Regions from separate parts of the Homo sapiens genome. Here region 1 is linked to region 2. The links come from fine-mapping of genetic effects on gene expression. A gene starts in region 2. The other region holds a variant in brackets. All regions are shown on one strand. Distances are between the middles of the regions.

Region 1 (8,000 bases), 95 kb before region 2:
CTGGATCAGCCTCAGCGAATGCCCTGGAAAAATGGTAGGGACCTAATTTCCCTGAGCTGCCTGATGGAGCTTGCCTCTCTTTCTGCTTCTTCTAATATTGTGTGTGTGTGTGTGTGTGTGTGTGTGTGTGTGTGTTTTAAAAATCTTTTGTCAGCAGCAAATTCATCTGAAATTGCAGCAAGAATAATACTTCGGTGTCACCTCTACTCTTCTCTGGTTCTAACAATCTTACAGTATCAAACAGCCCCTGCTTCAGAAGAAAAATAATAATGAATGACTTAAAATAACTCTGCTGAAGAAAATGAAGGTTTGATTTGAATTGCAGAGGGAACGACTCCCTTTTTGTCCCCCTCTCTCTTCATTTCCTGAAGAAGGCTTTCAGAATCTGCAAGATCCTTCTGCATTCAAAGATTCTGAGAGTCAAGAAAAACCAGGGCCAAATTATTTGATCTGAAAGTATATTTATCCCCATCATTCCAAAATACCACCAAATATCACCTAAGGAATAGGAAGCATTGGTGTGTGTCCATCTCTATTCTTCTCTAAGAAGCCTTAAGCTTTCTCGGGTCCACGGGAAAGGATGCGGTTTCCCCACCACTGCACTGCCTGGATGGGTGTGTCTTCCTCTGGGGTGGGTCAGAGAGGTCCATATGCTACAGAAGCCTATTACAAGCTTATCTCATTAATCACAGTGATTCATGCCGATAAAAAGGAATTTTTGGGAGAATGCAGATTTAACCCATTGTGGCCTTATCGGATCAGATTCATTATAACTCCATGCCTAGGTCCCCAAAGGAGATAGCAGGTCACGAGTGTATGCTTCAACAGAAACCCTCCTTAACCCACGTGGGCATAAATGAAGCTGAAATTACCAGAGAAATATACACTGGCATGTGTTGAGCCTGTGGTGCCGTTCAACCAAATGAAGTTCCATGGTTTAATATATTTCTCCATAGAGTGTCACAGCAGACAAGGTTGTGAATTGCACATTCCAGTTTTGCTCTTTGAAGATAGTTCTATTCAACCAAGTAGCCAATAGGAGTTCAGCTGATTAATAAAAGTACATTCTTTTTAAGTATAATTTTGAGTATTGTTGTGGTTTGACTGCCCCATGATTGCAAAGATTTCAACAAAGCCAGCTTGGAAGCTGCTAAAATGAACTTATTACTCAGCTTTTATTTACAAAATGTATTTTGAGGCTTCAAGTGTTGCAGAGATGCCAATGGTCGCAAAGGAGAGAGAATTGGTATTGAATCTGGTGGTATGCTGAAACCCCAAGGGAGGGCAGCTGCTCACCAGCCTGGCATTCTAGGTAAAATGAGGCCACGTAAAATGATGGAATGGTTATCTTCCCAAACGCCAATTTGTGTTGGTTTGCAAAGTGCTGAAGAATGAATGACACCCCGTCCTGGCTGAAATTTATGTCACACAATTTGGGGTAGGAGGAGGAAAGCCTATTTTCAGTCTAATGTTACAAGGGGAGACAGCAAGTCAATGGAATTAGGAGGAAATGGCCAGAACCTAGTAGCTCAATTTTTAACCCCAGGGTGAATCAAAGCAGCTTCCCCATTCCCCTTCCTCTCTGACCTTAGGGATCAGCCCACTCTCTCTATTACCTTCTACTACCCTCTCTCTACACACATTCACATTTGACCCAGTTCCCCCTTCTAACCAAAGACTCGACCCAATTCTCAAGCCTTCTCCCCCACAGTTCTGACCCAATTCTCTCATCATTTCCACAAAGACGTGACCCAATTTGCCTCCATCCTTCCCCCAGCACATGCGATAACATTCCCCCTACAGCTCCCACACTACGGATATGACCTCATTTCCACCCCCATGCCAGTCACTCACACCTGTTCCCCCTCCATTTCCCCACGATGGCCAGGAGCCACCATGGTTACCTTCTCTTCTTGCACCTAGGACACCACCCCCTTCTCTAAAAACACCAAGGACACAGCTTCCCTTCGGCAGCAGCCTCTTCTTTCCCTGGGTACATTCACAGGGATTTGACCTAATTTTCCCACTTCTCAAACCCTACTTGGCTCATCCATCTCATCGCACACCGTCTTCCCAAGGACACGTGGTTTGTGTCATTGCTGGAATGTCAAGCCCTCTGACACAGCCAATGCTCCCAATCAATGCTCGCAGCACAGCACTGAGTAGGTAGTTACTGCAGCCCCTGGCATGGCCAGAGGAAACGTCACAGCTGGCTGTGCCTTAACTGATACTCAGTTATTAGTTTATTCTTTAAAGAAATCATTTTGTTGGCAGCTTATCTGCCAGCATTTTGGATTTTCTCCCTTCCTTCCTTCCTTCCTTCCTTCCTTCCTTCCTTCCTTCCTTCCTTCCTTCCTTCCTTCCTTTCTTTCTTTCTTTCTTTCTTTCTTTCTTTCCTTCTTTCTTTCTTTCTTTTCTTTAAAAAAGGACATGTGATGAGTTCCGGTGAAGTGTGGTAGGGCTGTCAGTCAGGGGTTAAAGTCCTTTATAAGAAAACATGGGCAGGAGCAAATGTACCGGCCACTGAATGCTGCCCTTTCTATGTCAGTAGGGCTCCTGGAGAGGTTATAGGAGATGGCTCTCTGAGGGCTCTTCATTCATGGCTGCTACCTAATTAAAAAATAAATACGTTTCAATGATCACAAATGATTTTTATTTATCCACTAGGAACCAGATTACAATCAGTTATGCATATGAAATCTACTAAACAGTTTTCAGGTGAAAGGGTATTAAGTTCTATCAACGTTGGGGACTGATTTGGGTGAATAGACTTGGAGGCGATTGGTTGAGGGAAGACTGGAGAGAGCTTTTGTAGCCTTGCTCTCGTTTTTGTAACTGTTCCTCCCTAGGTCACTGCCCACTTACGTGTGATGGAGAAAGAGCCCACTCCAGCTCTCCCTGTTCTCTTAACTTGGCTGAGTTTTGGTGACACTCACGGTGGAACTTGGTTAGAAATAGTTGTTGTTTTGAAAAATTCAGAATTTTTCTTCTAAAATGAAGTAATACACGTTAAAGGTTTTGGACACCGTGAAGAGTTGTTCCAAATGGTAGTTATTCGGATGATAACAATCCCTGTTATCATCACAAGCACCATCTCTGCTGCCACCACCTTCATCATCACCACCTGCATCACAATCATTATCATCACCATCACCACCACCTTCATGATCACCACCACCTGCACCATGGCTATAATTACTACCACCACCATCAGCATCACTACC[A/G]CCACCATCATTATCACCACCATCACCGCCACCTTCAGGATCACTGCCACCTGCATCATGGCTATAATTACCACCACCATCACCACCATCACTACCACCACCATCACCGTCACCACCATTACCACCACCATCACTACCACCACCATCACTGTCACCACCACTACCACCACCATCATCACCACCACCATCACCATCATCAACACCACCACCATCACCACCATCACCACCACCTTCATGATCACTGCCACCTGCATCATGGCTATAATTACCACCGCCATCACCATCATCACTACCACCATCATCACCATCATCACCATTACCACCACCATCACTGCCACCATCACTACCACCATCATCACCATCATCACCACCACCACCATCACCACCATCACCATCACCACTTTCATCACCACCATCTTTATCACAGTCATTATTACCACCATCAATCATCACCACCTTCATGATCACTGCCACCTGCATCATGGTTACAATTACTACCACCACCATCAGCACCACCTTCATGATCACCACCACCTGCATCATGGCTATAATTACTACCACCATCACCACCACTAACACCACCATCATTATCACCACCATCACCACCATCTTCATGATCACTGCCACCACCACCACCATCACCACTACCACCATCACCATCACCACTACCATCACCATCACCACCACCACTACCACCACTTTCATCACCACCATCTTTATCACAACCGTTATTGTCACCATCAATCACCACCACCTTCATGATTACTGCCACCTGCATCATGGTTACAATTACTACCACCACCATCACCATCACTATCACCACCACCACCATCACCATCATCACCACCACCAGCAGCACATCTGAAAAACTCTGATTCTGGCCTTTATGTCTCAGATTCTTTTCTTTTCCTGTCAACTTCTTTATTTATACATTTATCCATTAAAAAGAATGAGAATGAAAAACAGAAAAATTATTCTTTTTTTATTATTCTAAGAATTTGTATCTTTTTCACGAGTAAGTTAGAAGCTAAAGATCTATCTATCATCTATCTGTTCATCTCTCTGCCTATTAATCGATGGATCATTTTCTTTTGCTTGTTGGTTGTATTTCCATGGCTCTTCCCTTTTAGTTTGTCTTCATCCCTCCACCTTCTTTCTGTTGGTTTAGTGCTTAGGGCCTAAAAGTAACTGATGCAGCACCTTAGAATATAGAGAATGCTTCCAAGCCCTCGCAGAGACTGGACTTTTCCTACCTGGTGATAGCATAAGGAAGAGCAACTACATGATTTTTTCTCTTTGTGGGAAAAGGGGCACATCTTTTTATTCAGAGTCGAAAGTTTTTAAAAAGGAAGAAGACAGGGAATTTGAATCTTTGTCAGCACCTGGCTCTTTAGCATAATGATCTGCACATTGTTGACATCCTGTAAATGCTTACTGAATTAAATTTGAGCATCAGCCTTTGGGCAGGAACAGAATTAAATCCATTTTTTGGGGGGCAGCCACTTTTATTCCAAATATATTTTTGGGTTACATTTCTAACTTCTCCCACCCTTTCCTTTTGTCTCTTGTCAAAACTCATCACACTGGTGCTGAAGTAAAGTTGACCATTTGTGTTTGGAATCCATTGGCTGGACTAGGGTTTAAATCCCTGCACCACCAATGACCAACCTGAAAAAGAAATCACTTGACTTCTTTTGGCTTCAGTTCTCTCATCTGTACCACCACCCTGCCATACAGGGTGGTTGTGGGAACTGAATGAAAAAATAAGGACTATACAGTAGATCCCAGAGGATCCAGCCCATGGTAGCTGGAGGCATGGCATGTGTATGTTTCCTGTAGATAATTACTCCCCCCACTCTCTATTGGGTCCATTTCTGGTATGGCCAAAGGATGCCAAGTCTGCATGCTCTCAGGGACCAACTCTCCCTCTACCATCAGCCCATCTTCATGGTGCTCAGCCGTCAGGAGACTCTGAGAATTGAACTAGGGAAGTGTAACAGCAGACCAAGAGGCAGAATTCCTATGTGAATTTCTGCTCCTTTACACACTGCAGGAATGCTACGAGACAGCTCATTTCTAAGCTTGGGAGGGTTCCCACAGCTTGGCTGAGACTTGGGGGAGAAGACGCAGGGCTTGAAGGCCCTTGCAGGAGTGAAGCCAGTGAAGAGACGGAGTCCCAAACCCGACTCCCACCTCTGCCCCTGTTAGCTGTGGGACTCTGGCAAATCGCTTAATCTCTCAGCACCTCCGTTTCCTCCTCTGCAGAATGAGGAAGAGAAGCCTAAAACAGATTTTGCATGGTGGTTGTGGGGATAAAATAAAACCTTTGGTATACAGGAGGGTGCTCAATAGGTAGTGTTTTTCTTCCCTTCCTTTCCTCTCCATCCTCTCCTTCTTTTCAAACATTTCCTTTTTATCTTGTATTCCCCTCCCCCCACCCCACTCCCGACTTCTTCCCAGGTTTCTTGATTCAAATTTAGATATGCTGGCTACTCAATGGTGACTTGTATAGAACCTGAAGTTCTTAGGAGGATGGACACTAAAGAATCCAATAAGTGATAAACGTTTGACTGCATAAACAAGAATAATAACAACACAATTATTTGGGATCATTATTAAATTGTGAGACCAAATGAAGCCAACACAATCAAAATTGAATAGAAAGTCAGTAGAGAGTCACACCCTCTAATTTGTTTGAAGATGCTGCCCTGGTTTATTACTGATGCTCAATCATACAGTTATTTAAAGGAAATCCAGACTGACAATATTAATAATGGTGACAAATCTTCCCGGCATGGACGGCTCTCACTTTCTTTTAATTGAAGGGAAGCTATGGAAGTGTTTTCCTTCATTTAAAAAAAATCTTCCTTTTTTTTTCTCTCAGGCCATCTGTCTGGCTATTAAAATCCCATCAGCTTCATTGCGAGAACGCTTACTTCCCCCATGCCTGCCATCCCAAAGGGGGCTCTTACAGCCAACTAGCTCATGATCGCTCCGGGCCCTCCAAAGGGTAAGTGCATTTGCTCTCAGCGCTTCCTTTGCAGCATCCTGTCTTTCTTTCCTGGCATCTCATTGCTGTATAGACAAGATATTCTGTGATTTATTTCCAGGCCCCCACATTAATACTCTGAAATTAGTTTATATCCATAATTATGTGTTAATTCATTCAACTGTATAAGAAGTAGCTATGTCTCTTCTCAGCAGTTTAGGGTCTAACAAGACAGTGCTGGATCTCTGAAATAAACACCCTCGGGTCAAAGTCCAATACTTCAGGATTAGCCTTTGCTTTATAGATGATGGTGGATGAAGCCCTTGGATCTAAGAGATTGAGTCAGGACTAAGAGTCAGGAAGGAAATGCCTGCATTCTCTCTGACCCAGCACCTGGGTTCCTAAAATCCTACACTATCTCTCTTAGGCTTGTGAGTCATATTATCCCAGCCCTTCCTAAATACCCCAAATCCTTTTTGTCATTATTGTTATGGGAGACAGTCATTCCTGTTATGACAAAACTGCCTTTCCTCCCCCACTCAGGTATGATCATTATGGAGAAATCTTACAGCTTCTTCCAAGAAAACACCTCTTCCTACCAGAGGTAAATCCTTCTATGCTTGGAAGGCTCTAGGGTGGAGAAAGAAATTCCTTCCCTGCTGGTTGACAGGGAGAGCTAATTCCTCTTGTTCTGATGGTGTCTTGGGAGGGGGCATCTCCTGAACACCCTGGAGGAAACCAAAGGGAAAATCCTTCAGTACAAATCAGTGTGTCAACAAGGGAGGCAGCATCTCTCTCTCTCTCCACCCCCCGCGACCCCTGGCTGTCGTCCACACCACCATCCTTTCTAGATGGAGGAATGGGTCAAATTGTAACTAAGAACCGAGTGCTCCCGACGCCTCAGAAAGGCCCTTACAGTCCAGGCGACTTCTGTGAATTGGCCTCTGACCTTCTTTTCACTTTCTATGTCAGTGTCTCTTTTATCACCTAAAGAAAAAAGCTGATGAGTAATGGGGCTGAAGAGCCACCCGTCTCTCCATGTCTTTCAAACCCCGTGGATGGTTTATCAGTAGGAACAACGCTTTTGCAAAGTGAATGGTGGGCCATTGTGGTACCTGAGATGAATTTAGGTGGTATAGGGATGAACATTTAAATAGCTTTAAGCTAAGTATTTTGAAGGCATGTTAAAAATATAACTAGTGAATTGAACCAGTGATTTCTTGGGTACTATTGCTTAGGATGAGGCTCGATTTAAACAGGGGATCGATTTAAAGATACATGTTTGAGGCTGGGTGCAGTGGCTCACACCTGTAATCCCAGAACTTTGGGAGGCCGAGGTGGGTGGATCCCTTGAGCTCAGGAGTTTGAGACCAGCCTGGGCAGCATGGCGAAACCCCATCTCTACAAAAATTCAAAAAAATGAGCCGGTGTGATGGTGCACCCCTGTAGTCTCAGCTCCTCAGGAGGCTCAGGTAGGAGGATCACTTGAGCCCAGTAGGTCAAGGCTGCAGTGAGCCAAGATTGTGCCACTGCCCTCCAGTCTGGGCAACAGAGCGAGACCTTGTCTCAAAAAAAAAAAAAAAACAAAGTAAAAAAAGATATGTGTTTGATTAATAACAGTCCTGATTTAAAACAACAGCACTGTGTTTTGAGCCTTCACTCAGTATGCAACTCCTTTATACAGATTTTATTTTAATTTTTATAACACACTGCTTGAGAAGCATATTTATTTCCGTTTTTGTGTGTGCATGTGGTGGACAGGAAACAGTGGTTCAGAGAGATGAAGC
Region 2 (9,381 bases):
AGGCTGGAGTCGGGGGAGAGGACACTGCTCTTCCCGCCTGCTTCTCCTTTTTCTTAGTACTACCCTAGCAATGGCCTGCACCCCAGCAGCACTAACTGCTTCCTGTCTTGGGGTGTGTGTGTGTGTGTGTGTTTCCCTACTCCCAGACCAGCTTATTGTTGCCCCCAGAGGAAACAGCGCCAGCGGGCAGTGCCCTCTTCTCAGAGATCCACACCTTGGCTCCCAGGGCCCCTCCTCCCTGCTTCTGGGCTGAGAGCCCCACATGCTTCCCTCTGCTTCCCCAGCCCAAGAGGTGGTGCTCCTTCCTGCAGTTACTACCCGTGCTGCCTCAGTTTCCCCCTTTTCCTCTTCCAGTCCTCTAGCACCAGTGTCATTCACATCCTACTGAAATCCTCACTGTTGAAATGCCGAGTAGAGTTGCTGGTTTTTGCCTGGCCCCTGACTTATGTAGTCCTTGGTACCAGGAGTGGTCTTAAAACATGGACCCTCCAGGATGGTTTGGAACTGGTTTGGTGTGTCTTGCCCTGAACACAGGGCTGGGCTCCTCCCAGTGGGAAATGGGTCCTGGTGCTCTGTGGCATGTGCTGGGGTCACGCGGCAGGTGACTGAACTCCTGAGGTGCCGGGACCAGCCGGGCAGGGCCCCTTCCTCAGGGGTCCGGATCCCAGCTCCCTGGGTCTCTTCAAGCTTCTGACAACCCCGACCTCTGCCCGCCAATCTGTGTCAACTCAATGCTGCCTTCTTGCTTCCTCAGTTCTCCAACACTTGATGAAGCAATTCCATACATTAAAATTTCTCTGCTGAAATGACGACTGCGTTTTCTGTCTTCCCGACTGTGCCTTGAACACTTCTTTTCTCTTCTTTTTTCTCCCGGCTGTTATCCACCCAGTGGGTGGCATCAACAGGTGGACCCCCATGACACAGTGCCTCCATCTTGGCAAACCTTCACACAAACCCCACTGAGGATTCCTTCATAGCCTACCCATCTCCACGGTCAGCCCTAACCCACCTTCCCACTCTCTCCCTAGTAATCCCTTACCCCAAATCTGGGCTCTGCATTCCTGTTCGCCCAGTCCCTGGAAATTCCTCAAGGCCACCTCCTTCCAGGTACCCCTAGACCAAATTCAAATCCTGTCCATTCTCTGCAAGGAAAGCTCAAAGAATACCCTTCCTGCACAGCCTCTGAAGGCCATCTCTCCCTCCTTCATCTTTATCTGTGTGGCTAACGTGGATCGTTGCTCAGTGGTAGCGCACGATGTGATGTCAGAGCAACCCTCCCAGGAGGCTCTATTACCATCTCCATGTATATCAAGAGGCAGCATATTATGGTACTTAAGGGCACAGACTCTGGAGCCAGACTCCAGCTCCATCACTTTCTAGCTGTGTGAGTTTAAATCAGTTACTTAACCTCTCTGTGCCTCAGCTGCAACATGTATAACCTAAGATAATCATAGCACCTACCCCACAGAATTGTTATGAGGATTTAATGAGTTAATATGCACAGTGCCTGGCATATATAAGTACTATTTAAGTGTTTTTTTAAAAGTAAACAAAATACAGATCAATGTCAAATGTTGTTTTCTTTCTTCTCCAGAACCAGAACAAGTAGCAGCTGTGCCTGGAGGCATTTCCCCGCATCTGGCACACAAAGGGCATTCACTTTGTGTTCGCTGTGTTAGAACGTATCACACGCATCTTAGTTCTTCCTTGAGTGCAACTGACTCATGCTTGCAGGCCCACTGCACCTTGCACGGTGACTCTGACGTAGTAGGTGCTCAGCGAGTATCTGTTCAATGCATAAACACTTGAACTGAACGTCAGGTCCTTCAATGACCAGTTATGTGAGAGAAAAAACAGAGTAACTCAGTTTAAACAGTAGGGCTGTGGGTCATGGATGGAAAAATAAAACCAATGGCATGTGTGTGGTGGGGGTGGGTGGACAGGTGTCAGAGGGGGCTGATTTCTGGGCTGAGGTCTTTTGGTCCCTGGAAACTTCCAAGAGGAAATGCTGTGGAATCCCTGAAAAGAGGCTGCAGATTGAGGCGCAGGCTGGAGTTCAGGAGCCACTAACTAGGCAGTGGCTGCACTCAGGTGAAAGAACTACCCAAGGGAGTTGGGGGTAAAGAAGGGCACAAAGAGGCCGGGCATAGTGGGTGGCTCACGCCTGTAATCCCAGCACTTTGGGAGGCTGAGGCAGGTGGATCACTTGAGGTCTGGAGTTCAAGACCAGCCTGACCAACTGGTGAAACCCCATCTCTACTAAAAATACAAAAATTAACTGGGCATGGTGGTGTGTGCCTGTATCCCCGGCTGCTCGGGAGGCTGAGGCAGGGAATCATTTAAACCCAGGAGGTGGAAGTTGCAGTGAGCTAAGGTTGTGCACCACTGCACTCCAGCCTGGGAGACAGAGTGAAATTACGCCTCAAAAAAAAAGGTCCGGGCACAGTGACTCACGCCTGTAATCCCAGCACTTTGGGAGGCCGAGGCGGGCAGATCACCTGACGTCAGGAGTTCAAGACCAGCCTGGCTAACATGGTGAAACCCAGTCTCCACTAAAAAATACAAAAAATTAGCTGGGTATGGTGGTGGGCGCCTGTAATCCCAGCTACTTGGGAGGCTGAGGCAGAAGAATCGCTTGAACCCAGGAGGTGGAGGTTGCAGTGAGCTGAGATTGTGCCATTGCACTCCAGCTTAGGCAATGAGAGTGAAACTCCGTCTCAAAAAAAAAAAAAAAAAAAATAGAAGGACACAGAGGAGCACTACTTGAGGACAGAGTAGCTTGGGCTAAAGCCCTGGAAATCAGATTGGGACCCAGGGTCTGGATCATACAGCTCTGCCACTTCCAGCTCTGTGACCCATGGCAAATGTTCTCATTTTTCTGGGCCTCAGTTGCCTCATCTGTAAATGAGGATGGCAATAATGCCAATCCCACAGGGTTGCTATGAGGATTCAATGAGACCACCTGTATTGAGGGTCTAGCAGAGCTGATGCACCCAAAGCGCCAGTAAGTTAGCTCCATGATGAAAACCGAATTTAAAAAGAACCCAGAGAGAAGCCCATTTAAAAAAAAAAGTAACTTCAGAAAATAATGTTCCCACCTTATCCATAAGGAAATTAAAGCTCAAAAAGTGCTTCGTCCAAGATGACACAGCCAATAAGAGGAACAGGCAAAATTACTTTTGTTACACAACACTGCCTCCTCTGGTGCTCTGGAAACTGGAGATTCTCCTGAGAACCATTAATTTATTTTGCTCCAGTATGATTCAGTTACTACTGTCAGTCATCTTTCTGTGTGACCCTTTTATTTTCAAATTATAAAAGCCATTAAAAATATTATCATTTATTCTCAGTCTGGAAGAGGGGAATTTTTTAAAACAGGAATCTCTTTTTCTCTATATAATTTCTCACCACTTCTTTCCTGAGCTGGCCAGGGAAGCCTGGAAAGGTCACAGGTTTCAACAGAAACACGAGTTAAGAGTTTTGGAGTTGGCCAGATCTAGGGGCTGAAATCCTGCATAGGGCCTTCACTAGGGGTTGACCTTGGCTGACATCTCTCAGTGCCTCAGTAAGATCAGAACAATCCAGTACCTGGCCGGGCGCAGTGGCTCATGCCTGTAATCCCAGCACTTTGGGAGGCCGAGGTGGGTGGATCACCTGAAGTCAGGAGTTCGAGACCAGTCTGGCCAACATGGTGAAACCCCAGCTCTATTAAAAATACAAAAAAAAATTAGCCGGGCATGGTGGCTTGCGCCTGTAATCCCAGCTACTTGGGAGGCTGAGGCAGGGGAATTGCTTGAACCAGGGAGGTGGAGGTTGCAGTGAGCCGAGATTGCGCCACTGCCCTCCAGCCTGGGCAACAGCGTGAGACTCCGTCTCAAAAAAAAAAAAAAAAAAGAAAAACAATCCAGTACCTAGCCCAGTGTGCTATGGTGAGACGATTACATGAAATATGTGTGCTTCACATGCAGTAAGCACTCAGTAACATGCATATGTGTTTCGCAGTCTATAATCCAAAATATTGTTTTTCTAAATGTGCAGACTGATACAAGGGGTACACTACAAATGTGCATGCCACATATTCACATATTCATCCATTCTAAAAGTATTTATTGAGTACCTACTATGTTCCAGGCATTGTTCTGGGTGCTTGGGATGTATCAGTCAACAAAACAAAGATTCCTGCCTTTGGGAGACTCAACATTTATGCCCTTCTTGGAGTGGGGCAGCACAGTAACTTTGGGTCTTAAAGACAACACACAAGTGCCTTTTGCAAACTCTGGTCACTACACTCAGGTCACCGTTATCAGAGGGGGTGAGGTCGGGGGAAAAATCCCATAGTAAAGACTACCAAAGTCACTGATGCCTAACTTTGGGGTACAGTATATGTTTAGCTGAAGCACTCAAGGTTTGCTTAAGCTTTGTTTGTTTTGTTTTGTTTTAACAAGTCTGCTTCTCCAGAGTTGTAACTAGTGATTTTTTAACGAGTCACCTCAACTGGTGAAGGTGGTCTCAGAGTATGTGACAGGGAGCAGGGGGAAATCCACTGGAGCTGCGAAGTGCCCTGGAAGATCATTCTTCCACGCCTAACGTAATTTACTGTATCAGTAATTGCAGTAACTCGCCTTTGGGAGAGAGAAAGGAAAAGGTAGGCAATTTAGGTGAACAAAAGCTCTGGATGAATTATGAAGGCTCTGGACTCCAGAGACCACCGTATTCAAGCGCAAGTTTTCAGACTCACCTGCCAGGATGCATTTGGCTGCCAGCTTCACCATGGTAACCAACACTCCCGCGAGCCGTACCCAGAGGACAAGAGCGGCTGCTAGAGACGCGAGTGGGTGGGCTTCGGGCCCTGGGCTGGCCTGGGACGGGAAGGTGGGGAGGGGAGGGCTGATCTCAAGGGTCAGTGGCCGCGACGGGACTGGGGATGACCGAGCCCGGCCCTTCTGGGCCGGGGGCGGATATCGGGCGCTGGGGGCGGGTGGGCAGGGGAGGGCTCCAGGTGGGCCCGGCTCGAGGCCTGACACGGCAGTCTGAAAAGGTGCAAGCGAGCGGACACGGCCTGTGCTCCCCGCCCAGCCCCTCAGCACAGCCCTACCCAGAGGGTTCAAGGAAGGACGATCCGGCTCTCCTCCGATCACAAGTACCGGGCCGGATGCACTCTCCAAGCAACCATAGCCCACCTGCCCCGCCTCCTCCTCCTCCTCGCTGACCCTCGATTGGTTGCCGCCAAAAGCTCCCACCCTCAAGGTCTCACAAAAATCCAATGGGAGTAGAGAGCTGGGATAACAGCCTTTTCTTGAGATGCAATTCGTAGAGTTATCAGTTCTTCAAGTTCAGTCTGCTTGACGAGTGGTTGTAATTGACGTCAACCAGCTTTATATCCCGCCCCCGCTGCGCCTGAGAGTCCCGAGATAAAGAAGCCTCCACGTCAAGCAGTCAGAAGCGGTGACAAGAGAAGCTTTCTGATTGGTCAGAGTCTGGCTTGACCCATCTTCGGGAGGAATAGGGATTCGCCACTCCCGCTGTCCTTCTAGAAGTGGGTTCGCCTACAATGGGGCAGGTTGGGCTCTAGGCGGTCTGGAGCGGCGCCTGCGCAGTGGGCCAGGCCGCCGCTGTAGAGGTCGTTTTGACTTGCTCTGACTTCGCGCGGTTCTCGCGGCTTCCCCGGTTCCCGGGTTCTGCACAGCGCGGCTATTAAAGTGCATGGAGAAGTGCAGTCCTTGCCCCGCATCCCGCAGGGAAATCTCATTTTAAAAGCTCAAAGATGTAATGAGCGTTAAAATCTAAAATATGAAGGTGTTTTATTAAAGTGATGTTTGTGAACAAAGGGAGAACAAATACACTTTGATGGGGCTAAGCGGTGAGACTCGGAAACTTGAAGTCGTACTTTGCTCTTAGTCCATTTACTCTCTGCAAAAGGAGAATGCATCACTAACCTCGTTTGCCCGTCACCCAGGGAGGCTCTCTGTACGCGTTTACTGGGTTGGGGGTGCCTCTTGCACGTGGTTAGGGGGTCAGAGACCTAAATCCCTGGCCTGGACAAGTCACCTCATCCCTCAGCCTCAGGATGGGCCTAGGAGAACCCGCCTTGTGGGGTGGTTGTGGAGATGGAAGGAGAGAAACGTATGAGTGCCTGGGAGATAGTAGGTGCACACGTGATTGTGGGGTGGATGGGAGAGCGGAAGCTTATCTGGACAGATTTGGTTTATCATCACTGTCACTGGTTGGCCGAATGTACCCCTTGTTCTCACTTTCTCAGGGCCCCTGGGATTCTGATGGCTGATGCTGAAGGGAAGAGCAGCCCCTCAGCAAAGGTGCCTGTGCGAAAGTTCCACATTCCCTCCAGACACCTAGAACATTCCACCTCTCCGCCACTCTGCATCTCAGAGTGGCTGCCAGCCTTGTGTGGGGGAATAAACACACACACTCTATGAATGGCTGATGGTTTCAGCCCCGAATCCAGAGTAAATGCAAGTTGTCTGAGATGTTCTTTCCTTGGGATTCATTCCTGGCGCTACGGTAAAGGTCTGTTTCTCCTTCATTTCTCGTAACTGCTTTTCTTCTTTGGTGACATCACGTGAGTCTGTCTCAGACATCCAGGTCTGAGTGAGCAAAAAGCCTCTTTCTGGTCTTCTGCCTTCCTCTTGCCGGCTCCCCTCCAGGCCAACCTGTTCACCATGAGTGACCCTGTTAATCCCTTAAAGGACCCCATTTGGTGAGTCACCCTCCCGAGGCAGCTCCACGTAGCTAAGACACAGACACACATCAGGGCAGCCTCCGAAGCCTTGGTTCCTTCATTTTGCGAGGTGGGTAATGACAGAGCCGGAGCATAGCCATCTTGGACAAGCACTGCCATTTTAAAGTTCTCCTTGATCAAAAACGGCCTAAATTCAACCCAAAGGGCATCAGCCTAATGGCTAATGTCAGAATGACCATAAACCACAAGTGACATCTCCAATCAGAAACATTCCAACCCTAAGATAAACCCACCCCCCGACCAGAGACATGCAGCCCCAAGATAACCTCCCCTCTGGTCAGAGAGATGTCAGCCCCAACATAACCCACCCTCAGACCGGAGACATTCCAACCCCACAGTAAACTTCTCCTCCACACAGAAACATTCCAAGCCTGTGGTAAGCTCTCTTGCCCTAAACCCTTAAATACTCTTAGTCTGTAAGAGAGAGCACTCCTGACTGAAATTGGCCAGAAGCCCCTCTCAGGTTTATGCTCCAAAATAAACCTGTATTTAACTGTTGAGCCACTTTTCATGTTTCTTGCCTCTTTCTTTAACTCTTGCAGGTAATAATCACACCTCCCTCCCAGGGCTGTTCTCTGTTCCCCACCCACTGTCTCCCTTTTGTTGCTGCTACTCTGTGTGATTTTAGTCAGCATTATCATAAGAGCATTGTAGAACTTTCTAGAGAGATGGTAAACACTTGTATGGTGAATTCTGTCCCCCTTCACCTCATGGACCCAAGGGCCTTCTATACATTTCTGTGACTGAAGGTAAGCTGAATGAGAGTCACTAGGTTTAAGGTGGTCAGAGAATTTTGGAGCCATGGGGGCTCCTGAGCAATTCGAGTTATCCCATTTCTGAGCAGCTCTAATAGTCACAGCTGGCCTATGTTGACCACAGACTTAAGGCTGGCCTTGTTCTAAGTGATTTTAGGGATTAATTAGTTTAATTTCACATTTACATTTGATATTCACAATAACCATGTATCATCCCCATTTGATAGATGGGGAAACTAGGGCCCAAATGAGATTAAGTGAAACACCGAAGGTCACCTAGCTAGTGAGTAGCAGAGATGGATTTGAACTCCTTCTCACCCTTCCTAAAGAGCAAATACTTATTGAGTTCCTTGCCGTAATAACTTGCGTTGATTGAGCATTAGATGTGAGGCATCTGCTAAGCACTTCACATCCTCTCTCCTGTATGAAACCATGACCCTGGGAAGTGGAAACTCTCATTCATTTGAAGAAAGGAAAGAGCCACAGAGAGGCCAAGGTCATGCAACAAGTCAGCCAGATCCAGAACCAGCCTCAGATCTCTTGACTCTGGGGACCAATGTTTGTTTCTTTGTTTTCCCCCATTATCCAGCATAGTCTCTCCATTTTCATTAATTAGCTTTTCTTGAGTGCCTACCATCAGCCAGGCATGGTGTTGGTTGCTGGATCCACTGAAGGGTGGGGATGACAGAGCCCCAGGCTTTACCTCTGGGTGAGATATCACGGCAATGTGGGAATACGGGCCCAGGGTTGCACACTTTTCTAGAGGAGCCAGGAATCTGGATTTTTGTGTGAAATCCCCTGACCTGTTAGTGTTGGCAATGAACTTAAATTTAAAACACTGTAGCTGCAGTAGAAACCTCTGTTGACCGGTTCAACCTGGGGGCTGCTCATCTACGATCTTTGGTAAAGAAAGGAAGACCAACATGTGGACAAGTCACTGTGCCACAGGTGGATATGGGACTCCCTATGTACACCTCGAGGAGCATTCCTAACCCTGGGTGGATGGAGAGGGAGTCGGGAAGGATATTCTGAAAGGAGAGCCTTGTAGGAATTTGCGAGGTGGACACAGGGGAAGGCAAATGCTGGGTGGATGGGTCAGCACATGCAAAGGCTCAGAGCTCTGGGAGGGCAGCAGATGGAACACACGGTGGAATGGCAAGACCCAGAGTAGAACCCTTGTTTGAGGAATTAATTCAACAAATATTCTGTTGAGTGCTTGCTAAGCACTAGGACGTAGAGGTGGACAGAACCATCTAGCCCAGTGGAGCGGCAGATGATCAAGCAGTAATGATCTATGATTGCATGTAGTCAATGTTGAATAGGGGAGGATGTGGTGCAGAAAGAACAAATACCCTATGCTCTGATCCCTGGACTGGCACACCAGCATCACCTGGGGATTAGTAAGAAATGCATTTTCCCAGGCCCCACCCCTGACCAGCTGAACACTGGAGGTGGAGCCCACAATCTGCTTCCATAAGGCCTCCTGGTGACTCCGACACAAGCTCATGTTGAGAACTGCTTTTCTTAGCTAATGCCAGGACCCACCTTTATCTACTCTATTGGGTCATTTTACTGTTTTTCAAGCTCCTCGGGAACGTTCCCACCGCAGGGCCTTTGTACGCACTGTTCCCAATGAGGCTGTATGACTCTCCTTCATGATCTTCAGATCTCAGCTCAAACGTCATGCCTTCGGGGAGCCCTCCCAAACACACAATTTAAGCATCGCCCCCAATCTGTCAGTCTCAATATCCTTGACTTACTTTACTTTCTTCATAGCGTTCACTACTACCAGAGATTACACAGTCTGTCCCTCTGTATCCGTGGGGGATTGGTAACCATGGATATCAAAATCCAGGGCTACTCAAGTCC

Alleles and levels. Positions count from the first base shown, and alleles are read on the strand shown. Sizes are in standard deviations (SD) of each study's normalised expression.
In carriers of allele A in region 1, the expression in fibroblasts of the gene that starts at base 5,184 in region 2 tends to be higher than with G alone (moderate effect, 0.58 SD a copy in GTEx).

The links. PIP is the estimated chance that this variant, and not a neighbour inherited with it, causes the effect.
Region 1: its variant is fine-mapped to the expression of IFT27 in fibroblasts (GTEx, PIP above 0.99).

What each region holds. Positions count from the first base shown.
Region 1 is chr22:36,676,835-36,684,834 of GRCh38, forward strand. The region is part of intron 1 of CACNG2 (calcium voltage-gated channel auxiliary subunit gamma 2); the gene reads right to left. Among named protein-coding and RNA genes, the nearest start is that of CACNG2, 23 kb to the right of the region's middle. RefSeq lists an enhancer at 7,983-8,000. The variant A/G (reference allele first, on the strand shown) is at 3,225.
Region 2 is chr22:36,770,936-36,780,316 of GRCh38, forward strand. It overlaps IFT27 (intraflagellar transport 27), which reads right to left and starts at 5,184. Exons shown (of 7, transcript NM_001177701.3): 1 at 4,739-5,184. The coding sequence starts at 4,772. RefSeq lists silencers at 4,746-4,805, 4,936-4,985 and enhancers at 4,884-5,447, 5,226-5,485, 6,013-6,576.